Linked DNA regions of Homo sapiens. The protein of the gene in region 1 interacts with the protein of each later gene in a pairwise test. Each region holds a gene or a part of one and is shown in the gene's direction. Other genes may lie near its edges. The genes, in order: SEPHS1, XAF1, ZNF202 and ZNF474.

Region 1 (8,026 bases):
TCAGCCTCCCGAGTAGCTGAGACTAGAGGCATGAACTACAACACTTGGCTCTGATCAGTACATTCAATTCCTGCAACTGAAATTCCTCTTTGCCTTGTAACATGACATAGTCACAGGCTCTGGGGCTTGGGACATAGACCTACTGGAGTTCGTCATTCATCTGCCTGCCCTAGGGGGTCCGTACCATTTCTCAGAGCAGCCTCAACAGGGCAGAGTCCCAGGTGCCCACGGTTGGTAGGCCACTCTAACATTCCTTCCGGCTTTCTCCTTTCTGTTTCCTCCTGTCTGCTTCATGACTTATGTTTCCTAGGATCACCTCCCAAATTAACTAACTCCCTTCTCCCTAATCCTTGTCTCCAGGTCTACTTTGGGGGAGCCCAAACTAAGACAGTGACCTTGGATAAATTACTTAATTAGTCGGAACCCTGGTTCCCATCCCCATGAAAGGAAAACCTACCGCAGGGGACTGTGGGGAGAATTCTAAAAGCAGTGCTTTAAAACACTGTGCAGTGGGGTATGTAGTGAATCCTCAACAAAGGTTAGCTATTGTTGGAGGGGTGGAAGTCAGGGTACAGGCAGGGACCAGCCTGGGACCGGCAGAGGGCAGTCCTGTCTCTGAGACACTGACCCTGGAGGTCAGAGGAGTCTAGTGGGGCCAGGGAAGGGTGGGGGAATTACAGGGTTTCCCCTGAGGACATGAATTCTTTTCTGTAAGGTGCATCTGCTCTTGAAGGCAGCAAAGTGTGAACCAGCCCTTGGGGAGAATAATGAACATCAGGAATAACATACTCAATGATTTCTGAGGTGTCAGAAAAGCCCGGCTGGCACTGGGGGCTGACATGCCCATCATGGCAGGATCTCTAAGTTCTGAGTTTCCTCCAGCCCAGTGGAAGGACAAAGAAGGCAGGTAGAGGGGCTTAAGTTTGGACATGTGGGGGTGAACATGGTCAATGAAATGGGTTGAGGTGAGATGAGGCTGCAGAACTACCCTCAGACGGTCCAAGCTGAACAGAATGAAACGGATCCACTTCAGGAGACTGGTGGCCCCCATGAAGTTAGAGTGTGGGTGTCCTATGTAAAGAAGGGAGAGGACTCAGGGACGGGGGAGAGGGTGTTGGTGTTTAAGATTTCCAGGGTTAGCTAAGCATGGTAGTAGTCCCAGCTACTCAGGAGGCTGAGGTGGGAGGATTGCTTGAGCCCAGAAGTTTGAGACCACCTTGGGCAACATAACGAGAGCTCATCTCTAAACGAATAAAAAATGAAAGATTTCCAGGGCCGAGAAGGTTCACAGCACGGCCAAGACAATGGGTGTCTAAAGTGGAGTTAAGGTCAAGGTCATCAGATTTGCACATCCATCATCTAGCAGGTGCTATTCCTGAGAATGGACCCTCTCCATCCCCTGGGATGACAGAGCAGGGGCCACTTTTGAATGGGCATGATTCAAACCATGCAGGGGAGTGACACTTCTGGCAGCAGATGGTGGCAGTGTTGGATGGCATGAGCCCCGAATGAGAAGGGCAGGTGACAGGAAGGTGATGTCACTGGAGCTGCTTTTCTGTTTTGGGGTGAGCAGGATGTGGGGTATAGAACAGGCAGCCTCTCGTCCCTCTGGGTTTCAGAGGAAGTGGAATTCTTAGGTCAGTGTTCTTCAAAAGCATCAGAATCACCCAGGGAGCCTGGCAAAATGGGGATTCTTCACATCCCTTCCCCACCACATACACCTCCGACCTGCTGGAGTCTTTTCCCATGGCTGCCATAACAAAGGACCGCAAGCTGGGTAGTTTAAATCCCGGAGGCTGCTAGCGGGAAGCCAAGGTGTCGGCAGGGCTACGCTCCCTCTGAAAGCTCTAGGGAAGAATTCCTCCTTGCCTCTCCCAGCTTCTGATGCTGACGGCAACCTCCGCTGTAGCTTGTAGCTGCATTGCTCCAACCTCTGTCTCGGTCTTCACATGCATGGCCATCTTCCCTGTGTCTCCTCTGTGCCGCTGTCTCCAAATCTTCCTTTTCTTTTCTTTCTTTCTTTTTCTTTTTTCTTTTTTTTGAGACATCTTGCTCTGTCACCCAGGCTGGAGTGCAGTGGCATGATCCCAGCTCACTGCAACCTCTGCCTCCTGGGTTCAAGCGATTCTTCTGCCTCAGCTTCCCGAGAAGCTGGGATTACAGGCATATGCCACCACGCCCAGCTAATTTTTGTACGTTTAGTAGAGATGGGGTTCGCCATGTTGGCCAGGCTGGTCTCAAACTCCTGGCCTCAAGTGATCTGCCCACCTTGGCCTCCCAAAGTGCTGAGATTACAGGCATGAGCCACCACGCCCAGCCCAAATATTCCTTTTTTTCTAAGAATATGAGCCATAGGATTTAGGGCATATCACAATTGAGTATGACTTCATCTTACCTTGATTAAATCTGCAAATATTTTATTTCCAAGTAAGGCCACATTCACAGGTATGGGGGGCAGTGAGGATTTCAACACACCTTTTGTGGTGGACATAATTCAACCCATTGTATCTGCTAGCTGTAATCTTTCAAGTGAGTGAAGCTGGTAAATTAGTTCTTTTTGTTTTGTTCTGTTTTGTTTGAGACAGGGTCTTGCTATGTTACTCAGGCTAGAGTGTAGTGGCACGATTACAGCTCAATGTAGCCTTGAACTACTGGGCTCAAATGATTTACCTCAGCCTCTGAGGTAGTTAGGACTATAGGCATGCGCCATCACACCTGACTACTTCTTAAATTTTCTGTAGAGACGCGGTTTCATTATGTTGCCCAGGCTGGTCTCAACCTCCTGGCCTCAAGTGATCCTCCTGTCTTGGCCTCCCAAAGCCCTGGGGTTACAGGCACCCTGAGCTACCCTGCTCAGCGGTAAACTGGTATTTTTAATAAGCCCCAACCAGACAATGCAACCCAGGAGAACCATCTCTTGGACGGAACCAGCAGAGCCTGAGAATCCAGCGGGGATGGCTCCCTAGAATGGGGTTCTGGTGAGCCCGGGAGTTGCGGGGGAGCGTAGGACTAGCTCAAAGCAGTACCCAAGGAAGAAGCTCTCATCACCGGCAAAGAAAAGGATGCATGACTCTGCCAGATGATCTGGGCCAAGGCTGTAGTGTGGCCCTGGATGAAGTAAGGCATCTGTGGCTTACGGCCTCTGCGGCAGAGAACTGCTTCCCGGTGAGCTCGTGGTGGGTGGAGGCGGGGAGGAAGAGTCGGTTCTGAGGATGGTGGCCTCCCACCGACGCAGCGGGGATCGGCCTCTGTCCCGCCCAGCCACTTGATTTCCAAGTTCTGCAGAGCTCTGTCCAAGGTCTCTTTCACTTTTTTCCTGAGCTCTCCCTTCGGGGTTAATCTCACCTCTTACGGAGGCTTCGAACACCATTTACATGCTGATGGCACCCAGATTTGCATCTCTGAGCCCCATCCCCACACCAAATTCCGGACCTGTTTCCCTATTAACTTTGGTCTGGAATATCCGGCAGACCTGAGATTTGCAACTCTGAGCCCCACCCCCACACCATCCGGCAGACCTCAGATTTAACATTTCCAAAGCTGAACTCACCCCGAAACTTGTTTGCCTTTCAGCAGTTCTTAGATAAATTATTAGCATCGCTCCTCATTCCCTCCCCCACCCCCCACCCCCGCAAACTGGAAACCTGGGGGTCATCTTATCCTTCTTCCTCTCCTTCCTACGTGCTAAATCACACCAAATCCCTTCCCTGGGCTGCATTCCCCTTGCTTTCAGTTCAAGTACATCTCCGGGCTTGACTAGTACAATACCCTCTTAATGAGAACCGTGACCCTGTCTTCCCCTCTGGGAGAAGCCATCCTCCAGTGGCAGGCGCCTGTAATCCCAGCTACTGGGGAGGCTGAGGCAGGAGAATCACCTGAACCCAGGAGGCGGAGGTTGCAGTGAGCCGAGATCGCGCCACTGCACTCCAGCCTGGCGACAGAGTGGGACTCCGTCTCAAAATAAATAAATAAATAAATATAAAATAAAAGAATGCAGACTAACACGTTCTTTGCAAACTTACTACAGGGTATGAAGAAAGTACACAAAGACAGGAGCAGCCTGTCTTCGAGGTGGCATCACTTCTGCATCCAGCCCAGGATTAAAACCCGGAGCAACTGGCAAGCGGAAATGTTAACGAAAAGGGCATCTGCGTAGCGTGCCAACCTGCCGTGCCACGTAAAGCACGGTCCAGTGACCCAAAACATTTCTGCTCCCAAATAACATTTGGAAAATGCTGACCTACTGCCTAGAAAAGTTCGATCGGCATTCCTGCACACTGCTGTTTTAGAGAGAAGCCCTAAACGATATCTGAAAGTATTTGGTTTATTTTCATCAGCAATGCTTTAGAATCTCGAAAGCCCAGAAAAAAGTTATTTCACGACGTGAAGCTCCCCCCTCGATGTCAATTCGAACACATCCAGGGTTGCGGCTGCCATGTTCGCTCGAACATGTGCAGGACAAACAATGCAACCAGCGGGGAACCGTAAACCTTTTTCCTCGACTTCCTACCACGCACATGAAGTGTTCAAGAAACTTTGCAGGACGTCTCCACATTTCACGAGGCTCCCGTGAACTCCGGAGCCGAGCTAAACAATAGGAAGGACAGATGCTGGGAGTCCCCAAGCATCTAACGCGCCGTTTGTGTTTTCAAAAAACCTCTGCCTGGCGCCCAGGCGGCTTTTCCTGGGCTCCTAGCCTCCTGTGCAAATTGTTCCCATGGTCATTGTCTTCCAGGACGCTCCGCTGCGCACTCGGGGAGCGGGGACAGCGCCCCGCAGAGCGCCGCGCGGTCGAGCCCGGCCAGGTGGCGGAAACGTTCCCGGCCCTTGCAGCGGGGCCCGGGAAAAAGGTGGCCCGGGCGCCAAGGGCGGCTGCCAATGCAACTCGCAACTTTTGAAATCAATCCTTTTTTGCATCATGCAACGGATGCCACCGCTCCTCGGGTTTGCAACCCCCCACCCCTCCCCCGAGACCAATCATTGCCGCGCTCGGGGCTGCACGGCGCCCCCGCCCCCTTCCCGGGCCGCACGCCGCCACCCAGCAGCCAGGGCCGCCTCTTAAAGGGAGGTGGCCGGCCTTAAAGGACCCCCGCGCGCCCAGCCGGCGGGAGCGCGGCGGCCCGGCTCCCGCAGGGCCGCGCCGAGGCAGGCGAGCCCCCGCGGCGCCCAGGCGCGGGCCCGGGCCCCCGCCGCCGCCGCCGCCGCCGGGCGCGGCATTTTTATTCAGGCGACGCTTAAGGGAGCCCGGCCGCGCCCGGTGCATTGTGGGAGCGGCCCGCGGCCCGTTTTCGGGAGGAGGCGGAGGGCGCAAAGCGAGCCGGTAAGCGGCGGGCCCGGCGCGGGGGGGAGGCGCAGGCTTAAAGGGGAATCTGGGTCCGCAGGCCCGCGGCGGCCGTTGCAAATCCCCCTCCGGGCCGCCCGGGACCGCCGGGGAGCCGCGCGCCGCCGGCCCCGCCAGCCCTGCCTGGAGAGGGGCAGCGCCGGGCTTGGTGGGGCCGCTTTAAAAAAGAAGCGCCGCCCGCGCCGCCGCCGCCGCCGCGCGGGGCCGGGGAAGGAGGGAGGGAGGGCGGGGAGGAGCGGAGGGGAGGGCGGCGGCGGCCACGCAGGGGTTAATTTTTTCGCCCGCCGACATTTTTGCGCGGCGGCGGCGGCGGCCCGTGCGCGCGGCGGGAGCGGCCGGCCTGGGGTCGCGGGGTGCCTCCGGGGCCTCCCCGCCTCCCCTTTTCTCCGCGCGGGCCCTGTCGACCCGGGGCGGGTGCGTCCCGGCGTCCTCCCCGGCTCCTGGGCCGCACGCGCGGTGCCCGCCGGCTCCCGCCGCCTCCCGCCGGCCCGAACAGGGATGGCCCGGCCGGGGCCCCGAGCTGCCGCCTCCGCCCCGCCGCCGGCCCGCAGCCCGGGCCTGCTGGGCCTTCCGAGGCGGCGGCGAGGGCCTGAGCCTGAGCCTGAGCCCGAAGGTGTCCCCGGGTTCCTTGCTCCCCTCCCCGGCCGCCTCCGACGCGGGCGTCCTGGAGAGCGCGCCCCATTGTGCGGGGCCGGCGGGGAGGTAGGTCCGGGGTTGGCGGGGCAGCGCGCCGGGCCCACCCCGCTGACCGGCTCCCCGGCTCCCCACGCTCGTTGGAAGAAAAAAAAAAACCAAACCATGGAAATGTGCCCGGGAAGGAAAGGGCTAAACGTTGCTTTAAATATTCATGCCATTGTTTTAAAGGCGTAAACATGTGGCTGCGGGGTCGCCGGGCACCGTCCCTTATTAATGCAAATGGATCCCCCTGGTTCCCTAATCACTGCACATTTCCCCCAGAACCCCCTCCCCCTTCCCATGCCCTCCAAAAATGTAAGAATCTAGTACTTTTTTCATTAGGATGTGAGGCTGATTTGTGTCCTTAGTACCATTTGGAATTTTAAATCTGAGCGCCTTCCTGATACAAGGTGTTTTAAACTTTTTTCCACCCTTAAAACTCTTGAGAAGATAGTAATTTAAAAGGAAGTGATAGCCACACAATTCCCCTCCCCACCTTTTTGGGAGCCAGGAGAGGAATAGATAGGAGGTAGGAAAATAACTGGATGCCTCGTGAGTTGGATTTTTTCTTTTTCTTTTTTTTTTCCTGGTAGGGGTGAGGCTGTGTTAAATGCGAGGTGTTTTTTGAGGAAAGGACTTTGTTGTTTTTGTTGAAAACGCCTTCCAAGTCAAAGTGGTATTCAAACTTTCCCATAACTCTAAGATGGCTTCAAAATTCTCGTCTCTTGTCACTTGCGGCCAGCGCCTGCTCTTTTTGGGCAGGGAGACTTCTTGGAATCGTGTTCGAAGGCTGACTCCTGCTCAGTTGTTACGTTTCCCACCGAAATCATTGCTCATCCCAAACCGTGTTTTTGTGAAGACGGTTTGGATTACTGCCCAAACTCGGGCTTCGTGAGATTTATATGAGCGATGTGCGTCCCAAGGGATGGAAAACTCTATAAATGGGAATTATGTTCTTAATCATAAATTTTATAGGGGAAACCGACCTTAAAACTTGGGGTGTTTGTAATTCTAGTCCCAATAAAGTATCAGTCTGGAGGTTTGTAAACTCGAGGAACACATGTTGTTTTTTCCTTTAGCCCCAAAGGCTAAAAAACGTAGGAGTGCTTGTTCCAGAAACCTAACGGTGGTACACAGGGCCGAAATGCTGCTGATTTAGTATGGCTTAATTTATTGTTTCGGTTCTGCAATGAAATGTTAATGAGGAGTAGCATATTTTGTCAATGATGTGTGTACTAGTTTGTTGGGCTGGATGTTTTGCTTTCTAGGAAATAGCACTGCGTGAAAACATCAGAGAACTTTCCAGGCTTTCGCCTGAAGAACACAGACCTTACTGTGTTAAACTGCCACTGTAGTTTTTAAGTTGTGCCCTTTAGAGAGGACTCCTATTAGTTTTGGATTGCATTGTGTATTTTTTTATTTTTTATTTGAGACGGAGTCTCACTCTCGCCCAGGCTGGAGTGCAGTGGCTCGATCTCGGCTCACTGCAACCTCCGCCTCCCAGGTTCAAGCGATTCTCTTGCCTCAGCCTCCCAAGTAGCTGGGATTACAGGTGCGCACCACCACGCCCAGCTAATTTTTGTATTTTTAGTAGAGACGGGGTTTCGCCATGTTGGCCAGGCTTGTGTCCTGACTTCAGGTGATCCACCCGCGTTGGCCTCCCAAAGTGCCGAGATTGTAGGCATGAGCCACCACGCCCATCCTTGTGTTGTATATTCTTTGGGCTCAGAGGGAAAACGTGTTTTTCTAAAATAAGGATTTAGCATCGTGAAGAATTTTGTCCAATGCATTTACATTAATGCCCTTTTCTGACAAGTTTGTATCGGGCGTTTCATTCTTCTGTGTGATAAAGCAAAAGATATCAAAAGATTTTGCGGAAAAGTCACCTTAGCGAGGACCGCCGCTTTCTGAACCACAGTGCTTCCAGGTTGACACATGAAGTGCCCAGAGGTGCTGTTCTAATGCTGAGTCCTAGAAGAACCTTTGGGATTTGCTGTTCAAGGTGGCACG
Region 2 (7,386 bases), on another chromosome or scaffold:
TTGCCCCATTTTATGCAAACTCAAAACTACAGTGGCTTTAGAGATCTATGTCATCTTTGCCTCCCTTCTTATCTCATCACCTCTTTGATCTCATGTACTACTCCTGTTCAGCTCACTGGCCTCCTGATTGTTTCTTGAGCATACCATGCCTTAGGGCCTTTTCACTGGCTACTGCCTCTGGCTGGAAGCTACCTCCTCACCTTCCCCACCCTACTCCAGGAGCTAACTCTCTCACTTCTCTCAAGTCTTTGCCCAGATGGCACCTTCTCAAGGAGATGTACCACAACAACCTATTTAAAATTGCAACTCCCTCTCCATCACATATTTACCAACCCCTTACCTTCTTCTATTATTTTTTCCATAGCATTTGCCAACTTCTAACATATTATCTAATTTACTTACTTATTATGGCCCTTGTTAATTGTCTCCCACGACCTCAGAAAAACTATAAGCCCCACTGGTCCCCTTCATGCTAACTACTCCCCAGACACAAATACTCTACTTTTGCTTTTAGCTGTTTCTTCTGGTAATCACCTTCATATGTCTAAAGCACCTTCTTATATTTTTTCCAGTTTTAGATATTACTTATTGACTCATAAGGATTTAGGAATATAGATTTCACTTTTTTATACCACCCATCCCACACACACACCTCCAAAGTTCTTCATTTCATCCTTCCAATGTATTGATTTCACTCATTCTGGTTAAATAAATATTCAGTATTACATTAGTATAACCATGTAAACATTATAAATGGTTTTCCACATGAATTGTGATTATGTGTTCTTTCTCCTACAACTTTTTGTTTTACCTGGACTTAATAATTGCTTCGGTTTTTCATTTGCTTCACTTTCTAGGTACCTATCACTAAATCATCCCTAAAATTCTCTACCAGATCTGAAAATTCCCCTGAGTACAACTACACACATCAGATAGTCTGTCCATTTCATTTTGGGAGCATGTTATGCCCCAGGCTTGATGATTAGCTGTTGGTCTGGAATTTCTTCCACTCTCTCCACGGTTGGAGTTCTGATTCCCAAATCTCAGGTCTCATCTTTCTCTTTCTTAGGTTACTCCTTGTTTGATAGAACATATCCCCAAATAGTTTCTTGAGAAAGAAAGCATGAGAGGCAAATTTTTTAGGCCTTATATGTCTGAAAATGAAAGCTTGGGTGGCTATAGAATCTATTGACCATCTTAATCTGTTTATTAAAAATCTTATTACAATTCTGATTTGGCCACTACACACTGTATACATGTATTAGAAAATCATTCTGTATTCTATAAGTATGTATCATTATTACTTGTCCACTAAAAATAAAAGAAATAAAATTGATTACAAAAACTTTCAAATAAATATGACAGTAGAAAGTTAATACAATAAACATTCATGTATTTACTCCCCAGATACAACAGTTGTTGTTCTAAACAAGGTGAATAAAAATAAATCTACTCTTAGATACATTACAGGTAAAAGGCAAAGGTTGATTTCTTTGAAATCAGCCGAAGAAGATTACAAGCAAAGGAATGGCAGTTAGGCTGAAAGCAAATATATCGACAGCAATAATAGAAGTGGGTATGCAGTGGAATAATCTTCAAAGTGCTAAGAGAAAATAGCTGTTAACACGTGGAAATCAAAAGTTTTCCAGGCTTGAACTATACTTTGTTTGTTTTCTTTTTTCTAAAGTATGTTAAAGCAAATCCAAGATATCCTGTTATTTCACCATCATTCTTTAATATCTCAAAAATACAGTCATTTTCTTAATCACAATGCCTTTATCACTCTCAATGATGTTAACAATAATTTTCCCCCATCGTTTTGGGGCCTTGCATTTACCACTCTTGTTCATTACTACTGCTGCTGCTGCTGCTGCTGCTGCTGCTTGCTTCTCCCTTGTATTCTATTGGATTGAGCAAGATTTCTTTATTCTCTTTCTTCTTTCCTACTGATTCGTCAATTTTACATTTATTTCTATCATTTCAATAGTTACCCTTAACATTTTAATATAAATACTTGACTTAATAAAGTCTAAAGTTAGTCATTATCTCTACTTTCCTTACAAATAGTATATAGATTTGAGAACATGTTAACACTGTAACTATCTTACATGAAAATGCTGCCAGAATTTTGTTTCATTTTGCTTTCATACTACCCCTCTTTACTGATTATTGTTGTTATTTATGTAACTCATGCCTGTTTAGATATACTCACATGTTTTTGTTTTTGCTTTTTTTCTTTCTTTCTTTCTTTTTTTTTTTGAGACAAAAGTCTCACTCTGTTGCCTGGGCTTGAGTGCAGTGGCACGATCTTGGCTCACTGCAGCCTTCGCCTCCTGGGTTCAAGCAGTTCTCCTGCCTCAGCCTCTCAAGTAGCTGGTACTACAGGTGTGTGCCACCACGTCTGGCTAATTTTTGTATTTTTAGTAGAGATGGGCTTTTCCATGTTGGCCAAGCTGGTCTTGAACTCCTGACCTCACATAATCTGCCCACCTCGGCCTCCCAAAGTGCTAGGATTACAGGCATGAGCTACTGTGCCCGGCTGGATATACTCACAAGTTTACCCTTCTCTTTACTCACATTCTTCCTTGGATCCTAAGCTTTCCTTCTGGGTATGATTTCTCTCTTCCTGAAATACATCTCAGTAGCTTCTTCACCAAGAACCTTGAGTAGTAAATCTTTAGTTGCCTGAAAATAAGCTTTTTGTTTTTTGCATCCATGAATGATAGTTTAGCTGGATATCAAAATCTAGATTAACAGCTATTTTCTCTTATCATTTTGAAGATTATTCCACTGCCATCCCACTTCTGTTATTGCTGTTGATGTATTTTCTTCCAGCCTAATTGCCATTCCTTTGTACGTAATCTTTATATTTGGTTGATTTCAAGATCCTCTTTGCCTTTTACCTGTAACGTGTTTAAGAGTAGTTTTATTTTTATTCATTCTGTTCAGAACAATGTACTCAAATGTGTTTGCTTTTCTCCTGCTCAGGATTTCTCTTTCCTTAATATAAAGATTTATGTCACTAATCAGGCCTGAAAATTCTCATCTATTATCTCTTTGAATTCCCAACATTCCCCAACTCTCCCACATTCTCTCAACTCTCCTTCTGGAACATAACACATGTATATTAAGCATTCTCATTCTAGCTTCATGACTCTCTTTTTTTTCATGACTCTCCTTTTTTTTCATTTCTCTCTTTTAATCGCCTTATGTCTCTTAACCTTTCATATTTTCTCTATTTCTATCTCTTATATTCTGGGTAATTTCCTGAAATTATCTCCAAGTTCATTCATTCTTTCTTGGCCAAATCTAATTTTCTGTTTTTAGCCCATCCATTTAGGTTCAATACCTGCATTTTTCATGTCTAGAAGTTCAATTTATCTTTCTTTCAAATTTGCCTATTTTTGTTCTCACTACAAAAAAAAGATAGGTATGTGAAGTGATTGATATGTTAATTAACTTGATTTAATCATCCCACAATGTATATATATATTAAAATATCACATTGTACCCCATAAATATATAAAGTTATTATTTGTTAATTACAAATTAGAAAATTTCAAATTTACCTGTTCTGTTTTTCATGAGATGTTATTCTTTTCCCAGATTTAATCATTTTTAATTAATTTATTTTACAGTCTCTATCCTATAGTTGCATTACCTGAACTTCTTGGAGGCTAATCTGACTACTTTTGTGTCTGTGACTCTTACTCAAGGTGGATTGCTTCCTTGTGTGTTTGTAATTTTGGATTGTGAGTTTCTATCTGGTGGGACTCTACCTATGAGGATCCTCTATGACCTATTTTGAGGCTGTTGTCCCTCCAGAGGAATTTTGTGATTGCTTCTGCCAGACATCTCAATGTTTATGTTAATTCTTCTGCTCAGGGATTCCCAGACCATGAGGCCAAAGTAAATCCTAATCCCACACACAGGAATGGCATGGACCTGTGATTTTGAGTTTTCAGGGGCATAAGTTTTCATCTCCACACTCAAATACCGACCCAAGAAAGAAAAGCTTCCTTGCCACTTTCCTTTTCTCATTAGCTGATACTTTTCCTCTTACCCACCATAATTTATCCTTTAAAGTTTCCAGCTTTATGCAGGATCAATAGAGTCTTACTTCCAAATCCCCACCTGTGTGGATGGGACTTTCCTGTCATCCAAGCCCCTAGTTACAAAGTTGACCCTACATCTCCCATAAGCAGTGTCAACTCCTGTGCTTAACCAGTCCATTTGTGCTGCTATAACAGGATGCCACAGACAGAGTAATAATAAAGAACACAAATTTATTTCGAACAGTTCTGAAGACTGGGAAGTTCAAGATCAAGGCACCACCATTTGGTGTCTGGTGAGGGCCTTCTTGCTGCCTCCTAGCATGGTAGAAAGCAAAAGAGTAGAAGGCTGTAGCCAAATACTTCATGAATCCTCTTTTATAAGGACCCTAATCTCATTAAAAAGGGAGGACCTTTCATGATCTAATCACCCCCGAAGGCCCCACCTCTTAATACCATCACATTGGCAGCACCTGAATTTTGGAGGAGACACATTCAAACCATAGCAACCAGTCAGACCTTCATTCCTGGAATGCAAAATTTTCTTTCTTTCCTGCAAAGCCAGCTATTAAATTGAATGTCTGTCACATTTTATACACCATATAAAAGTGTTTACAGTGGGAATTTCTTGTGTTATCTAGTCTACTGTATTTTCTGACCATTAAAGCTGAAGTCATTTTAAAATTTGATATATTATTCACAATTGCAGGGTAAATGTTGTCCAGACTCAGAGTTTAAGAAACACTTTCCTGTTGGAAATCCAGAAATTCTTCCTTCATCTCTTCCAAGTCAAGCTGCTGAAAATCAAACTTCCACGATGGAGAAAGATGTTCGTCCAAAGACAAGAAGTATAAACAGATTTCCTCTTCATTCTGAAAGTTCATCAAAGAAAGCACCAAGAAGCAAAAACAAAACCTTGGATCCACTTTTGATGTCAGAGCCCAAGCCCAGGACCAGCTCCCCTAGAGGAGATAAAGCAGCCTATGACATTCTGAGGAGATGTTCTCAGTGTGGCATCCTGCTTCCCCTGCCGATCCTAAATCAACATCAGGTACTCAGCCTCTGTTCTCTGCTTACCTTTCTGGGAACCATCCGCACAGTGTCTTAAAAAAATCCAAGACCTGAAAGATGTTCACAAATGTTGTGGCTGAAAAGGCCGTTTTCTCTGACTCCCACTTCTCTGGGTGCCCAAATGCACTATCTCGTAGCACTTACCACCTGGTTTATTTGCATCACCTCCGAGAGACTGAGTCACCTTTGACTCAAGCCAGGTCTTTGAAGGTAGAGCCAGGTCCCTCTTCTCTGTGTCTCCAGCTTCTAGGCCAGGGATTGATTTGGAGCAACTGCTTCAAAACTGTTGAGTAAATGAATGAATCAGAGGATACCCAGTCTATCTCTCTCATGGTGTAGATATGGCACTGAGGCCCAGAGATGAGATGTCTTGGTCAAGATCCTAAGCCAGTTGGTGGTGGCTTACCTCCAGCAGATCAAGGTTTGCTTCAAGAAGATCAGGGTTTGTAGGCATCTCCCTGAATATCATGATTTTTATGTCCTAGGTTATTTTCTAGTAATAATAATAACTGGCATTAGAGGTTGTTAACCATTGTGTGCCAGTTACAATACAGAGCTCTTTATAATCTTCATCATAAACAATAGGCATGCATTTTATCTCCATTTTACAGATAAGGTGAAGTAGCTTTCCAAGGAGTATACAATTAGAAGGTGGCAGGATCCAGCCTGAGTCCACATGTATATAGCTCCAAAGTTTATGCTCTTAAGCTCCAGATTAAATGCCTTACTTAAAAAATTTATTTTTTTTCAAAATACATAAGTACTAGATTTTGTTGGAGCTAGTTGATATAATATCATATAAAGAAGTATAAAAGCAAAGCTAACCCTAATTCCCCAACCCCATACCCTGAGATACCACTTTGGACAGTCTTATGGGCATCTTTTCAAAGCTCTACCTTTGCATATACAAGCCTAAACAAGCATATACTGGGTTTTACTTGTTTCTTTTTCCACACATATTATCTTACTATACTTTTTACTCTGCCACATGCCTTTTTCACTTAGTATATGATGCATGCTTCTTACAAAAGACTTAGTATGCCAAAACCTTTTTTTCTAACTTCCTTGTGCATCTATGTATGCACATAAGCATATAATTTTACAAAAATGGGTTCATTTCATATTTGCTGGGGGTGTTACTAGTGCCATTTTTCCTTGCCTCCCACAATTTGGTATATTTCCTTTCACAGTTTTCTCCATCCTTATATAACAGAGTCGCCAGATTTAGCAAATAAAAATACAGGACATTCAGTCAAATTTGAATTTCAGAGAAACAAAGAATTGTTTTTAGTGTAGGTATATTCCATGCAATGATTGTTTTGCTAAAATTAAAATTTAACCAGGACACCCTGTATTTTATTTAGCAATTTCTTATATAACCACCATACAAACATACACATTTGGAGTCCTGTTATATACATTTTTTCACTTTTTTTTTTTTGAACCAGTAAAGCTGCCATCTTTTTTTTTTTTTTTTTTTTTTTGAGACAGAGTCTCGCTCTGTCACCCAGGCTGGAATGCAGTGGTGGGATCTCGGCTCACTGCGATCTCTGCCTCCCGGGTTCAAGCGATTCTCCTGCCTCAGCCTCCTGAGTAGCTGGGAGTACAGGCACCCGCCACCACACCCAGCTAATTTTTGCATTTTAGTACAGATGGGGTTTCACCATGTTGTCCATGCTGGTCTTGAAATCCTGACCTCAGGTGATCCACCCGCTTCAGACTCCCAAAGTGCTGGAATTATAGGGCATGAGCCACCACGCCCAGCAACATTTCTTTACATCCTAATGTAAATTCAGCAATACCCAAGGAAATCCCTACAAACAAAACAGTGTGGCTTATTTTTATTAATGGCTGCCTAAGATTCCATGGTGTGAGTGTTCTCCCATCTGTCCCTCCACCCAGTGATAGCAACAGGCCCCTGTTAAACTTTGTCGCAAGCCTCCTATACTTCTGGCTCAGTGGGCTCCTGACCTTTTCTATGCCATTACACTCCAGTCTTTGGGCAGGGCTCATGCTCTGTAACAAGGGACAGCAATATCCAGAGATATTCTAGGAGCTAGCACTTCTTACTTTAACCATATCAAACTTTTTTTATATCCATTTCTTAGGAGAAATGCCGGTGGTTAGCTTCATCAAAAGGAAAACAAGTGAGAAATTTCAGCTAGATTTGGAAAAGGAAAGGTACTACAAATTCAAAAGATTTCACTTTTAACACTGGCATTCCTGCCTACTTGCTGTGGTGGTCTTGTGAAAGGTGATGGGT
Region 3 (8,183 bases), on another chromosome or scaffold:
ATAGGTGTGAGCCACCATACCTGACCAGCTTCTCATTAATTTCAGCAGTTAATTTGGCCTATAAGACCATTAGTCTATTAGGTCTGATCTCTGTCCACAATATCAGGCCTCACAAATTCCTCTATTGCTGTCAGACCGCAGCCACACCAGCCTCTTCTCAGTTTCTCCAGTACACCAAGGCTCCTTCCCATTTCAGAGCTGTGGTATACACTATTTCCCATTACTTCAAGTATTCTTTTTTACTCACCTCAGTAAAAGGAAAACAAAATCTTGGGACCCCAAACTCACTATGCCAAAGGGAAAAGCTATGCTTGGGAGCTAAATCACGCAAAAACTGCCTTCCTTTTTTTTTTGTTTCTAAACACATACTTTTTGTTTCTAAACACATGTGTTTCTGAAATTCCTTTTGTTTCTAGGCATATTTACTTTACTTCACATTTACTTTACCTCATAGAAAATGCAGATCTATGCATAATTGACTTTGTCCCCACTACTTTCTTTTCAGATGTAAAATGTGGATTGCTGAGCACTGGTCAGAGCTTCACAAGAATGGGACTTCTTGCTAGGTGCCTACCCTCCCCTTTTTCTTCTTTCCTCCTTCCTCTCCTGCCTGCTCTTTCTGCTTTAAATATTGAAGTCCTCTTTGGAAAAAGCACAGGCCACAGATCCTACTGCAACTTGTGTCTACTTTTCCACGGTGCATCCTCAACCTTGGCAAAATAAACCTCTAAATCAATTGAGGTCTGTCTCAGACACTTTTTGGTTTATACCCCATCTCCCAACCTCACCCCCAGGCTCATCCTGCCCAGGCATTCCACAGACTCAGTTCAAATGTCACTATTCAAGAAAGCTTTCCCTAACTACCTCTCTAACAGCACCACCACCAGGATTAGGACCTCCAGTAACAAGTTCTTGTAGCACTCTGTATTTCTCTGGAGAACTTACAATAATTATAATTAATTTAATTAATCATAATTAAATAACCACAGTTAGTGAATTGCGTAAGTTATTTAAACTGTTTTCTTCTTCCCCAACTCCTTCATATCATACACACACACACCAGTTGAAAGTTAGATCGAGAACAGATATTACGTCTTTCTTATTCTCCATTCTGTTCCATATACCTACCACAGTGTCTTGTAAGAGCAGTCACTCAAAAAATCATTGACAAATGAAGGACCAGCTAACTGCGCTGACAGAATTCTGATCACATCACATATGGAATATATCTTTTGTATGTAAATATATCCTCTATTATGTAAATATCTCATACTCCATGTTTTCCAAGTAGAAATTGATTACCACTGATATTAGATTAGAATCCCCAATTTATATCATTCACAAAAATAAATTCCAAATCTAACCATAAAAAGGAAAAGCAAAAAGTAGTAGAAGAACATACAGGAGAAGCCTTTATGACTTTGGTGCAGAAAAGATATTCTTAAATAAAACACCTAATTTGAAGCGGGGGAAAGAGTGTATCAGATTTGAAACTTTAATACTACAAAGTTAGACAATAATCTAGAAAGTTAAGGAAAACATTAATTTAATATTAATATTTAAAAATATTCAATGAGATTTATAGAGAAAAACATCTTATACACAGCAGGCTTTCATGAACTTAGTCAAGACACATAAAATTAATATATCTCTTGCAATATATACGTAAAATCATTAGGATCTAGGATACATAAAGAACATCTAACAACCAATTTAAAAAAACAAAAAGTCCAATATAAAAATAAAACTCACAGGAAAACTACAAATTACCAACAAATGTATGAAAGAAAGTTCAGTCTCACCATTAACGATGGGAAGGCAAAGTAAAACAATTAGATATTATTTTTGCCCATTAAACTGGCTGAGATTTACAATTCCGGCAACATGAGGTAAGGGCATGGATACAGGGAAAAAATCTTGTATACTGTTGTTAAGGGTGTAAACAGGTGCATTCATTTGGGAGGAAAACTTGGCAGTATTCATTAAAAGTGTGCAACCTTTGACCCAGCAATACTCTTTCTCAGTATCCGTCTCAGAGTACCATTGCATGTACGCACAAAGAGGGTGATCATTATAGCATTGTTTGTAATCCCAACAATTATAAAAACTTATGTTTTCAACAGGCAAATTGCTATTCAGACTATGGAATGTTATGCAGAAAGCAGAAGGAATAAGGGAGATTTTTATTTACCGCTATCAACAGATCTCCAAGGCCCACTGCTAAGAGAAAACAAATGGAAGAATTCAACATGAACACACAGGTATACACACAAGTACACAGAAAATAATACTATGTACTTTCTGTGGATACATATGTACACAGCACATGAAAATAAAAATATCTGGAAGATAAATACATTAGGGTCATAAGAACAGCTAACTTCTGGAGAGAGAGGAGGAAGCCAGGGTTGGTAAAAATGTCATTAGCGGCCAGGCATGGTGGCTCATGCCTGTAATCCCAGCACTTGTGGGAGGCTGAGGCTGGTGGATCGGGAGGTCAAGAGATTGAGACCATCCTAGCCAACATGGTGAAACCCCATCTCTACTAAAAATACAAAAATTAGCTGGGCATGGTGGTGCATGCCTGTAGTCTCAGCTACTCGGGAGGCTGAGGCAGGAGAATCGCTTTAACCCGGGAGGTCGAGGTTGCAGTGAGCCGGGATGGTGCCACTGCACTCCAGCCTGGTGGCAGAGTGAGACTCCGTCCCAAAAAAAAAAAAAAAGTCATTAGCTTTATCCATTGACAAAATCTCTTTTCTTCGCCAAACTTGTCAGGCTTCTGAAACTTCTCCTAGGGCTATCGGCGTACTTCCTTGTAAAATCTACTGTTAGCAAAGAACTCTAAGTCCTTTGGCAGGAACGCCCCCATCCTTGATATCTGACCATCCTTAATACCTGGTCAGTGTCCTCATCCTCCATCACGCCCCAGGTGATGTCTGATCAACCTGGCCTGTCTTCAGCAAGAATCCTATTAGGTTGACTTAGCCAGAATCCGCCTTAAGCCTGATGTTTCCCCTTAGTAATTTTCAATCCATCGACGTCCCAAACTCCAAAAAAAGTTCCTTGACTATAAATTCCCACTTGCCCATTCTGTATTCAGAGTTCAGCCCAATCTCTCATCCCTACAGCAAGACTTCATTGCAGTGGTTTCTTTACCTTTCCTGGTCCTGAATAAGGTCTCCCTTACCATGCTCTAACAAGTATCACTGAATAATTTTTCCTTTAACACTGTAATGCATTAAATGTTTAGAAGAAGATGTTTATGTATTATTTATGCACTTAATACCAATATTTTAAAATATTCAATGAGATTTACAGAGAAAAATATTTGGTACACAGTAGGCTTTCATGAAATGTATATTTCTCTTTGTATTGGGTAATTTTATGTGTCAACTTGACTAGCTAAGGGATGCCCAGACAACAGAAAACATTATTAGTCGGTGTGTCTGTGAGGGTGTTTCTGGCCAATATGGTGAAACCCCCTCTCTACTAAAAATACACACACACAAAAAAAAAATAGCTGGGCATGGTGGCACATGCCTGTAATCCCAGCTATTCGGGAGGCTGAGGCAGGAGAATTGCTTGAACCCAGGAGGCAGACATTGCAGTAAGCCGAGATCGCTGGGCGACAGAGCAAGACTCTGTCCAAAAAAAAAAAAAAAAAAAAAAAAGAGAGAGAGATTAGCATTTGAATCAGTAGACTGAGTAAAGAAAATCACTCTCACCACTATGCGTAGGCACCATCCAATCCATTGAGGGCCCAAATAGTATAAAAAGGCAGAGGAAAAGTAAATTCACCTCTCTCTTCTTGAGCTGGGACATCATCTCCTCCTGCTCTCTGGCCTTCAGACACCAGCACCTCAATCCCTTTCCAGTTCTCAGGCCTTCAGCTTTAGACTGAATTATACCACCAACCTCCTTATTTCTCCAGCTTGCAGTAAGCAGATGGTGGGACTTCTCAACGTCCATAATTATGTAAGCCAACTCCTTATAATAAATCTCCTTTTATATGTTTATACATACCCCGTGTGAAAGGAAAGTGATTTGGGGCCCCCAAAATCACTAAAGGGAAAATTCATGCTGGGAACTGCTTAGGGCAAACCTGCCTCCCCTTCTATTCAAAGTCACCTCTCTGCTCACTGAGATAAATGCATATCTGATTGCCTCCTTCCGGAGAGGCTAATCAGCAACTCAATGCAACCATTTGTGTCTTATCTACCTATGACCTGGAAGCCCCCTCCCCGCTTTGAGTTGTCCTGCCTTCTGGGTTCACACCTATTAGTTCTGTTTCGCTAATACACTGCCACTCCACCAAAAGTAACTAATCCTTTGGTTCAAACCCAGTAAACAGATCCCAGCAATGTGTCCCATGAAAAGGAAGTGGCACATGGCACGTGGAGAGTGGTGACTTACAGGGTAAAAGGGACAGAGAGCAAAGGAAAATGTCAAGTATGGGCAGAAAGGTCACCGAACGGACAAAAATGAACAAATGAGATCAGGGAAGACAGCCTGAAAGTAAAGAAATACGAAGCAACACTCAAAGGAAAAGAAAGAACAGTGATACCATAACTATTTTCTTTCTGAGCTTCTGATGTTCCATTCAGTTCATGTGCAATGTATCATTTAGTCCTCAGAGTAACGGTATTATTATGCCCGTTTTATATGATGCACAATAGGGTTCAAAGATGGAGAGATTCGGCCGAGGCCCTGCTGCTGATGGTGACTGCAAGAGCCAGTATTCAAACCTAACGCTGCCCTTTTCTACCATGTTGCAGCGGACAATGCAAAGAAAAAAAAATCAAGAAAAACACGTAGAGGTATCCAAATGAAAACAAACACACAAAAGATCAAAAACAGAAAAGAAAAAAGAAAAGAAAAAGAAAACCCTTGCAGAAGGTATGCCTGTAAATGAAAGGCCCAAGATGTTAATTTATTCGCTGCAGAGTGGAGTTAGGGGTCGCGGACGGCAGCTGTGGGGTCCGAGGCTTCTTCGCACTGGGTCCTTGGGGAGCACTGAGCCGCAACCCGCGGAGGGCGCATAGAGAGGATCAAACCTCCCACAGCCTAGAAAGGCTCCTACTCGGCGAGAAGGCGGGGCGAGCGATCGCTTCCGGTTCCGGGCGCAAAGGCCCCACGTGTTCCGACCCGCTAGGCCCCGCGCGGCTCGGATCCGGCGGCGCTGTTTCGGTCGGGAGTGGGTGGGAGAGAAGCCGGGGCAGGGGAGGAGCCGCCGGAGCTGTCGGAGCCGTGAGTCCTGAGTGGGCTGGGCTGGGCCGGGCCGGGCTGGACCGGGCCGGACCAGATCGGGCAGAGCCGGGCAGGGCGGGGAGGAGGGGGAGGGACCGGAGACCCCGCCCCCCAGAGTCTGGGGAAATCGCCGTGTCCTGGGGAAGGGGTGGCGGCGGTGTACTGAGGGTGCCGAGACGTTGTGGTCTCTGTGTTTCCTGGTGGCCGGAGCCAGTATCTCCGGGGACACGGATGGCGCTCCCGGCTTCCTTTCCTTTCCAGCCACCGCCCTCCGCCCCCTCCTGGGGCCTGCAGAAATGTAGTTAGTCCGTACCTCGTACCTCCTAACGCTTCCGCGCCAACTGTCCCCCCGGAACCGAGGGAGGAGTGGTCTAGGCCCCTTTATTTTCCGCAGCTTTTTCTTACCCCTCCTCTCAGATTGCTTAAGATCATCTCCGCGGGCTCCTTGCCCCGGCTAGCCCCATCTCCTTACACCACCAAGCCCCCCTCAGCCCCCCAGCACACACCCAGATACACTCACCCGTGATCTTGTCACCTGTGATGATAGTAGTCCTTGGCGTCCATTTGGCCAGAGGCTTTTCAGCTGCCACTGTGACAGACCCTGAGGTCCCCTCAAGCCAGTAGCTGCTGTCTCCACTTGCAACTTTCCTCTCCTCCCACTCCTAACAGCCAGTTTTGGCACCTCTTCTCAGCACCTGCGTTACTTTTAGCAGGAGTATACCTACTTCTTGAGTGTCTTGATTAAAAATTTGTTTTTGTGCCATGGATAGGCTGTGTTCCTTCAGAAAGGTGTCAGTCTAATTTTTGTTTTTCTGAACAATGAATGTTCTCATCTTCTAGGCGCTTTGATAACCCTGTCTGCCTTGGAATCTGTACTGACCTCCCCAGAGGGAGACTCTTAGACCCAGCCTTTCTTGAACAACCTTGGTCCTGGGGAGCAGCGCTAGATCCCAGGCTCTCAATTAGAGGCTGGGCTTAGAACTGTTGCTTTTTCTCTATCCACGCTCTGCAGGTGACACCCAGGGCAGCTACACTCAGAAGCCACAAGGAATGCTAGTGGAGCCCCTCATCCCTCCCAGCTTCTCTTCCAAGCTGCCCCGTGGGGCTTGATCCAGGAAGCTACTTCAGAAAGGTTGTGGGATAGCCTTGGGAGGAGGTTTGTTGGTGGGAAGCGTGTGAACGCGGAGCAGTCTGGGATAACTTTCTGCTGTTACTATCTAGCATAAGAGGGTGGGCAGGGTTGGAGAGAGGACAGGAATTTTTCCTCCTAGGACCAAACGCCTGGGATTCATAATCTTTCACCCTTTCTCCTCCAGCTATACCCTTTTTGTACTCTGTGTATATACTATATTGCAGTAGACAATCATTCCAAGGGTACAACAAGGTTTACCACAATGTGAGGGACTCAGCCATTGCAAATTGTACAGATGAGGTAAGTTACAGGTTTACATTTTTTTTTCCCAGTAAATTTGGCACAGATTTAAAATGTGAAACAGTTCTATACCCCTTGTTTTTGCTGTTCTCTCACCAGCAAACCCTTTAGTTTGGCCAGCAATGGCTTTCTGCATGAACTTCAGATTTACTTCATTTGCTAGGTGGTGGTTCTCAAACTTACTATAAGCACCTGAAGGGCTAGTTAAACGCATATTGCTGGGGCCCACCCCTAGAGTTTCTGGTAATAGGTCTGTGCTGGGGCTTGAGAATTTGTACTTCTAACAAGGCTCAGGTACTGATGCTGCAGATCTGGGTTCTTCACTTTGAGAACAACTACCTTTTGGCCAAATGTGATATATGTATTGCAGTAGGTTGAGGTTCAGAATACCTTTGTTTGAGTACTTCTGTGTTGGAAACTAGTAATCTGATCTTTTATAGATAATCACTTAGGTCTGAATATTTTGTTCGCAAAATTAAGAAAGCGTACTTAAAACAACTGAATGCTATATGCCAAATTTGAGGTGAAATATTGATAAGTTCTTCCCCTTGATTTTCTTAATTCTCTTGATAGGGGCTTCACGTTTTGATCAAAATATTACACCTGTATTCTGGGCTTTTGCTGTGAATTCCTAGTATTGCTAAAATTCTGCAATTTCTTAACTACCTGTTAAGTTCCTCAAGGTCAGAGCTTCTGCTTTTTTTATCTTTCTTTGCCCAGCACCTTGAATAGTGTGGGACACGTAATTGACGCTCAGTAGATATTTGTGTATTGAACTCCATCCCTTGTCCTCCTCCCCTCTTGATGTTTTTCTCTACTGGCCTTATGCTACACAGTAAAGCAGGGCATGATTATGCCACTTGATTACCCCCAAGAGATTGGAATAAATGCTTATGCCAAATTCCTACAGCTATCCCTGTGAATGGTTTATTACCCAGGAGCCCTGACACTGGCTGATTTCTGAATTTTCAGTGCTTCTGTAATATATACTAGTTGGGGGAGGAGAAATAGAAAGCTTAAACTCAATGTGCGTTTATTGAATACCTTTTCTACTAAGGGCTCCACAAAGTGGTAGGCACTGGGAATATAAAAATGAATAAGGAGACCCTTGCTCTCGAGGGCAGGGCCCACAGTGGGGAGACAGACGTTAAGCCATGCCCACGACAAGAATGACTTCTGAGATTCCTTCTCTGGATCATGATTTAGTCTTCAGTGGAAACCTGGTACTCCTCAGATTCCTCTGGTTCAACAGGCGGGGATCCCATCCCTTATCATCTCCTCAAATGCTAAAGGACCCTTGAGCAAAGCCAGGAGGAAGTCATCTAGACGTGAAACAGGGAGTATCCACACAGGCTGTGTTAATGACAAAGCTAAAAACATAGTAAATGACTTTTGAATTTACTGCTGTTATGAATTATCTATAGCAACACCTCCGGTCAGCTCTGTTATATATGTTATTGCGTTATTTCCCATTAAATGATGGTTCCTCTGACTATCTGATTGG
Region 4 (7,000 bases), on another chromosome or scaffold:
AAATCTGAAATTTGAAATAACATTATTAGGATGAATTGTGCTAATCACCAGTATTAAAATACAGATATCTCTCAATTAGTATTAGGTTTCCATGTGAATAACAGACTCTTAAAAATGGCTAAAATAAAAATAAAAATTTACTTTTCTTATGTAAATAAAGTCCAAGAAAGGCACTCCAGGGCTTCTATGATGGTTCCAGCATTACCAGGGACCCAAGTCCATCCAGGCCTCTGCTCTGTCATATCAAGTGTTACATAAATGAAATCTGTTCTCAACTGGCTGCTAAAGCGCCAGTCATCACATCCATCTTCGAAGCATCAGTAAGAAGGAAAGGAAGAGAAGCAATTGTTCTCTTCTTCCTTTTCAAGAATTGTTCTTACAAGTTCCACACAATATTTTCACTAACTACAAAGGAGCTTGTAGATGTGCCCAGCTGAAAGTTGGGGCTCTATTAATTGAGGGAGTTGAGTGGAATGGCTATTGGTAAGGAACTAACTGTCTCTGCCGGACATTAGAAGGGACATTATCTCATCAATTATAAGCCTTGGTGTAAATGAGTCCATCAGTTCCTTTTTGAAAGCAAGATTTCATAGGTAAGACGGACTGGTGAGCATACAAGAATACTAGGCTGGAGAGTGGAGGCTGCTGAATGGGGTGGGTGAACAACATTGAAGATGAACCTCCTCTATTTTAGAATCTTGATCAGAGCCACCATCAGCCCCAACTCCATCTTTCTTGTTTATGTTTTTGTTCATTTAAAGAATTTGAATTCAATACTAATAGAGAAGGGATCATATCATGTATCAACTATATTTCTTTTGTTTCAAAGGGCTAGATTTTTTTATATACTTTAAGTTCTAGGGTAAATGTGCACAACGTGCAGTTTCGATACATAGGTATACATGTGCCATGTTGGTTTGCTCCACCCATTAAATCATCACTTACATTAGGTATTTCTCCTAATGCTATCCCTCCCCCATCCCCCCACCCCACAACAGGCCCCCATGTGTGATGTTCCCCGTGCTGTGTCCAAGTGTTCTCATTGTTCAGTTCCCACTTATGAGTGTGAACATGAGGTGTTCGGCTTTCTGTCCTTGTGACAGTCTGCTCAGAATGATGGTTTCCAGCTTTATCCATGTCCCTGCAAAGGACATGAACTCATCCTCAAAGGACTAGATTATTTTTTAAAAGATATGATCACACTTTTCATTGTGTTCTGTTCCCTCTCTTTTAGAGAGACACCTTCTAATGCCAAGATGGTTTTTGGATTTCCACGGTTATTACATTCTTCTTTGTGTGTTTGTCTCTCCCTTCCCATGAACCCTGAAGAGAATGGAAAAATGGCATCATGTTGATAAAAGGTGATGCCTTCCAGGACATTCTGTAAATGTCCTATGTGCAGATATGGTCAAAACGAATAATTCAGGCCAACTGAGTGAACATTTCTCCAGAGATGCTTGAGGTAAAACTGTCTGGCTTTGCAAAGTGGTTCTCTTTATAAACTAGCAACATTGCTTTATGACGTTTTGGGTGACAGGCCAATTTCTTATGTGATTTAAGTATATGCATTTAGTATTTTCCAGCACTTTTGCTTTTAGAGCTAACTTATAAAGGGAGAGCAACCAACACTGCTGTGCCATGGCATGTTGCCTTTGCACAGTCACTGGCAGAAACATTACGCATTTCTCCATAAGACACCTCCGTTCCCAAAAATTTCACTGGCTTCCAGCTACCTCATCTTTCATATTTTGATACCTTTAGTCACAATAAGGGAAAAATTTCAGGAGAACATTGGAGAAGGAAAGGGATGGTAGAAAAAGAAAAGTTGAAGATTCAAATGGACGTTTTGTGATGTTTCATCGTGTTTGCTGCAGAGAAAATATTTGCAGTGCACAAATGTTTGTGTGCGGTAAGATCTATCCCTAATCAAATGGTGACATGGCTTCAAACTGAGCACTACCTGGCCTCTTGGGGCAGCCTTCACTTTTACCCTGTGCCCATGATCAAGACAGACAAAACACATCATTCATCGTTGGTCTGCCCCATTCCCCCAACTGGTCCCTACCTCTGCTGGTTATGTAGATTTTTCTGAAGATATTGGTGAAATTAAGAAAAGAATCTGTACTGCACATCACTCAGGAAAAACTACATCTAGAAAACAACTGTATATGGCAAAAGTGATTCTTTTTTTTCTTTTTTTTTTCTTTTGAGATGGAGTTTCACTCTTGTCAGCTAGGCTGGAGTGCAATGGCGCGATCTTGGCTCTCTGCAAACTCTGCCTCCCGGATTCAAGCGATTCTCCTGTCTCAGCCTCCTGAGTAGCTGGGATTACAGCCACCATACCCAACTAATTTTTGTATTTCTAGTAGAGACGGGGATTCACCATGCTGGCCAGGCTGGTCTCAAACTCCAGACCTCAGGTGATCCGCCCACCTCGGCCTCCCAAAGTGCTGGGATTACAGGCATGAACCACCGCGCCCGGCCTGGAAAAAGTGATTCTTAATGCAGAAACAGAAAACCAAATACCACACGTTCTCACTTATAAGTGGGAGCTAAACGTCAAGTACACGTGGGCATAAAGATGAGAACAACAGATAGTGAATGCAAGCGGAGGAAGGGCTGAAAAACTACCTATTAGGTACTATGCTTACTACCTGGGAGACAGATTCATGTGTACTCCAAACCTCAGCATTACACAATATGCCCATATACCAAACCTGCACATGTACCCCGAACCTATAATAAAAGTTGAAGAAAAAAAGTCCCCTGTCACTTAACATTGAAAACATTGTGTTCCATAGCCCCAGTCTCTCTCTTCTGCTTTGTCCCTCTCAGAGGCTTCTCCTCTGTGCCTTGTCTGCACTCCTCCTTCTTGCCTCTTCTTTCTTCTAAAAGGAAGCATAACAGCTGGTGAGAGCTTAGTTACCTTCCCCTGAGGCATATGGATAATACATTAAAACAGGGATAAAAACTAAAGGGAAGAAGCTCTGCTGGAGGAATTTAGGCAGAATGAATAATGGAAAGAGCCACGTATTGGAGCCAAAGAGAGCTGGAATTGATTCACAGTTCTGTCATTTAGAAACTGACAGTCTTGGGCAAATTACTTGTCTTTTCTGAGTCAGTTTCTTTACTTATAAAGTTGAAATAATAATACCTGCTTCATAATCATTTGAGAATTAACTAAAATTATGTTTACAAAAAATCTGTGCCCTATCTGGCATATAATTGGCATTCAGTAAATATTACCTCTCTTGCCTTATCAAAAGGGAGATGGAGGGGTTGCTGGGGAAAGTCATGGGGATTTCTCAGTATTCTAATCTGCTGGAAACAGAATTGACTCTGTGTGTGTGTGTGTGTGTGTGTGTGTGCGCGCGTGAGAGAGAGAGAGAGAGAGAGGGAGGGAGAAAGAGACAGAGAGAGAGAAAGAGAGGCAGAGACAATTTAGGGGAAGGAGGCTTATTTGATTGCATTGATTTTTCTAATCTGTCTTCTTAAGTCATATTAGTGTCTGCAATTTCCTAGTATCAAGGAAAATGATAAACTAAAATTCCTCGGTGAACAGAGCCAATAAAGCAGAATGGTTTGTGGAAATAACCCACGGGCTGGATTTAAAACCTAATGAAATAATTTTACCCTATTCCTATGTTCCATAGATCTACTTTCTCTTTTAGATGGTACTGATCGAGTGATAAATTTCTCTGTTTTATTTTCTATGCTGGCCACTCTGGGGCCAACACATACTTTTCCCACATCTGTTAACATTACTGTCTTAGAATCTGTCAAAATGAAGAATAACTTCTTTCTCTGTGCCAGACCTGATTTGATACTCTTAAAGGCAAGGATTCAGACCTTTGTTGGCACCAAAGTACAGGAGCTGGGCACAGATATCACAGCTCTTCTTGTTCTTTATCAAATCCAGTGCCCAGGGTTTCCATATTACCAGGACTGCTGGCCTTGCACTGTCCAAACTGAAGTGTTTGCCGTGATGTAGAGGATCCAGCTTCATACCAGGGGCTGCTCTTCTGTGGTTAAGAATGGATGCTTTAGAGTTTATCACCCTGATAAATGAAACGATAAAGGAAATGAAAAAGGTCCTGAGGCTTCTGAAATAATCTTTTTGGGGAGCCAGATTATAAACCCACGGTAAAATTTACTCATAACTTTTCCCAATATACAAATTTAAGATTCTTCCCATAAATGGATATCTAAGCTGCCACTTCTTCTGGTGGGGATCCTTGGGGAATCCAGGGCCTTTGTTTTATATTTAAAAATATTTGGAAGTCATACATATATAAAACAAGAAAGTAGGTATGATACCTTTTTAATAAAAAAAGAGCCTCAAGCAGCATCTGTGTATCATCTTTCCATGAAAGATCTGCAGATATCCCACCAGGATGGGTGCCGGCCTAGGCTGTACTCTTTGCTGGAGAATTATAGCTCCACTTTATTAATACCCTATTCCCATAATAAACAAAAGTGAATACATGATGTGTCACAAGAAGTTTATGTCCCTCTGAGGGCTATCCTGATAATCCTCATAAGATTCATTCTTGAATTACTTCTTCTGCAAGAGTTCTTAATTTCAGGTCCATGGACACTCAAGAAGTCTGTGACACAACTTTACCTCAATTAAAATGTATATCACAACTAGAAACAGTTGACAAATTATTTCAGTAAAACTGATTTCACCTGTGATAGCAACAATTTTTATTTTTACTTATAAAAATACTATTCTGAGAAGTGCATAGGCTTCACAGAATTGTCAAAGGAATCCATGTCACTAACAAGTTAAGGATCTCTGACGTAGTGGAAGTTTCTGTGGGGCCCAGGGGGTCTTTTCGTATGACCTGCTGATTTCATTAATCTAATATTCACAGTTTGCAGTTTTCTCTTCTATGGTCTCACCACCCTGGTCTCAGCCTCTATTGCTTTGCGTCTTCTGTATCTATGATGTGCTGTAATTGTCAAGTTAACTTTTTGGGCAGAACACGATTTTCAATACAGTGATAGTGCAATTGATGATGGAAGATTTCCTCAGGTTTATGTCAGTTTATTGACCAAATCCCATATGCTGGTTACTGTGCTAGTCAAAAAGTATACAAGGTCAATATTTAAAACAAGCAAAAAAAAAGCACACACACACACACAAAACAACCTAAATGTGTGTGTGTGTGTGTGTGTGTGTGTGTGTGTTTACATAATAACTTCTTATGTCTCCCACCCGCCTCCACAGATCTTGGAGACATCTCAGCTTTAATGAGGACTTTCCAACATTCCAGACTGCCGTCCTGCAATGAAGCTCTGAGTCACGGTCTGTGAGGCTAAGGTACTGGCAACGGTGTGAACCCCAGGACAACTAACCTCACTAACCTTCACTCTAAGCAGAAGCCCAAAGTGAGTCTGGCCTGAAATCAGAGCAAGCACTACAGAAAGACATCTTTGTTAATGGAAAGAGGAAAGAAGAAAAGAATTTCCAATAAGTTACAACAAACTTTTCACCATTCTAAAGAACCCACTTTCCTTATCAACCAAGCTGGGCTTCTCTCTAGTGACTCCTATTCTAGCCTTTCCCCAGAAACAGAGAGTGTTAATCCTGGTGAAAATATAAAGACAGACACTCAGAAAAAGAGACCTGGGACTGTGATACTATCAAAACTGTCAAGTAGAAGAATTATATCGGAAAGCCAGCTTAGCCCCCCTGTGATCCCGGCCCGCAGGCCTGGATTCCGGGTATGCTATATCTGTGGCCGAGAATTTGGGTCCCAGTCAATTGCCATTCATGAACCCCAGTGCTTGCAGAAGTGGCATATTGAAAACAGCAAGTTGCCCAAGCATTTGAGGAGGCCAGAACCCTCCAAACCACAGTCTCTCAGCAGCAGTGGGTCCTACAGTCTTCAGGCAACTAACGAGGCTGCATTTCAGAGTGCCCAGGCTCAGCTGCTGCCCTGTGAATCCTGTGGCCGCACATTCTTGCCAGATCATCTTCTTGTTCATCACAGAAGCTGCAAGCCAAAGGGTGAGGGTCCCAGAGCACCACACTCAAACAGTTCTGATCATCTTACTGGCCTCAAGAAAGCTTGTAGTGGAACCCCAGCCCGACCAAGGACTGTTATCTGCTACATATGTGGTAAGGAATTTGGCACCCTGTCCCTTCCTATTCATGAGCCCAAATGCCTGGAAAAGTGGAAAATGGAAAATGACCGGCTCCCTGTGGAGCTCCACCAGCCACTCCCACAGAAGCCTCAGCCCCTTCCGAATGCACAGTCCAGCCAAGCGGGACCAAATCAAGCTCAGCTTGTGTTCTGCCCACATTGTAGCCGAATCTTTACCTCAGACCGCCTCCTGGTACACCAGAGAAGTTGTAAAACTCATCCTTATGGGCCAAAATATCAGAATTTGAATTTAGGGAGTAAAGGAGGCCTAAAAGAGTACACTAATTCCAAGCAGCAAAGGAACAGGGCAGCACCCAGTGTAACTGATAAGGTAATTCATGCCACACAAGACGCATTAGGTGAACCTGGTGGTGCCCTCTGCCTGTAGGGGAACAAGAGAAAACTATCCCCAGAATCAGCCACCTCAGCCCCTAGTATTTTTTCTATCAATGCCTTGTATCAGCCTCAAAGCAGCCTGTTCAAGTTAACTCCCTGTTGAACTCCAGGGCCTATACCTCTCTTGGCTGAATAGATATAAGAACATCCTTGCCTGATGGGTTCATATTCCTCTTCAATTCTGCTGTCTAAAAGAAGAAGAGATGGACTTCTTTCTTCCCTGATCCCTGATACAAATAATCCCTGGGAGAGACAGTAATTTGAAAATGAGTCATTAATGCTGTGTCTACATTACAGAGATATAATTCCCATTCCAACAGCCAATATTTATTGTCGGTTTATTTTAGTCATCTACCTTAGGAATTCATTTTTGGCAATGCTGGGTTATGCTGAGTTTATCTTACTAAAATAGAATCTGTGTCAAAAACCCCCAATGACTTTAGCAACAATTA

The links.
Region 2: the proteins of SEPHS1 (region 1) and XAF1 interact in binary tests that used the Homo sapiens proteins (3 or more experiments, as listed by UniProt).
Region 3: the proteins of SEPHS1 (region 1) and ZNF202 interact in binary tests that used the Homo sapiens proteins (3 or more experiments, as listed by UniProt).
Region 4: the proteins of SEPHS1 (region 1) and ZNF474 interact in binary tests that used the Homo sapiens proteins (3 or more experiments, as listed by UniProt).

The regions. Positions count from the first base shown.
Region 1 is NC_000010.11:13,345,294-13,353,319, reverse strand, and holds the start of SEPHS1 (selenide, water dikinase 1), read left to right. Parts: upstream 1-5,026; 5' UTR 5,027-5,320; intron 5,321-5,620; exon of another isoform or gene 5,621-6,043; intron 6,044-8,026. UniProt on the Homo sapiens protein: Synthesizes selenophosphate from selenide and ATP.
Region 2 is NC_000017.11:6,765,882-6,773,267, forward strand, and holds part of XAF1 (XIAP-associated factor 1), read left to right. Parts: intron 1-1,470; exon of another isoform or gene 1,471-1,572; intron 1,573-4,761; coding exon 4,762-5,103; coding exon of another isoform or gene 5,104-5,160; exon of another isoform or gene 5,161-6,468; intron 6,469-7,231; coding exon 7,232-7,288; 3' UTR 7,289-7,386. UniProt on the Homo sapiens protein: Seems to function as a negative regulator of members of the IAP (inhibitor of apoptosis protein) family. Inhibits anti-caspase activity of BIRC4. Induces cleavage and inactivation of BIRC4 independent of caspase activation.
Region 3 is NC_000011.10:123,738,613-123,746,795, reverse strand, and holds the start of ZNF202 (zinc finger protein 202), read left to right. Parts: upstream 1-5,135; 5' UTR 5,136-5,247; intron 5,248-5,335; exon of another isoform or gene 5,336-6,259; 5' UTR 6,260-6,379; exon of another isoform or gene 6,380-6,603; 5' UTR 6,604-6,679; intron 6,680-7,252; exon of another isoform or gene 7,253-7,362; intron 7,363-8,183. UniProt on the Homo sapiens protein: Transcriptional repressor that binds to elements found predominantly in genes that participate in lipid metabolism.
Region 4 is NC_000005.10:122,146,546-122,153,545, forward strand, and holds part of ZNF474 (zinc finger protein 474), read left to right. Parts: intron 1-2,778; exon of another isoform or gene 2,779-4,058; intron 4,059-5,233; 5' UTR 5,234-5,445; coding exon 5,446-6,540; 3' UTR 6,541-7,000.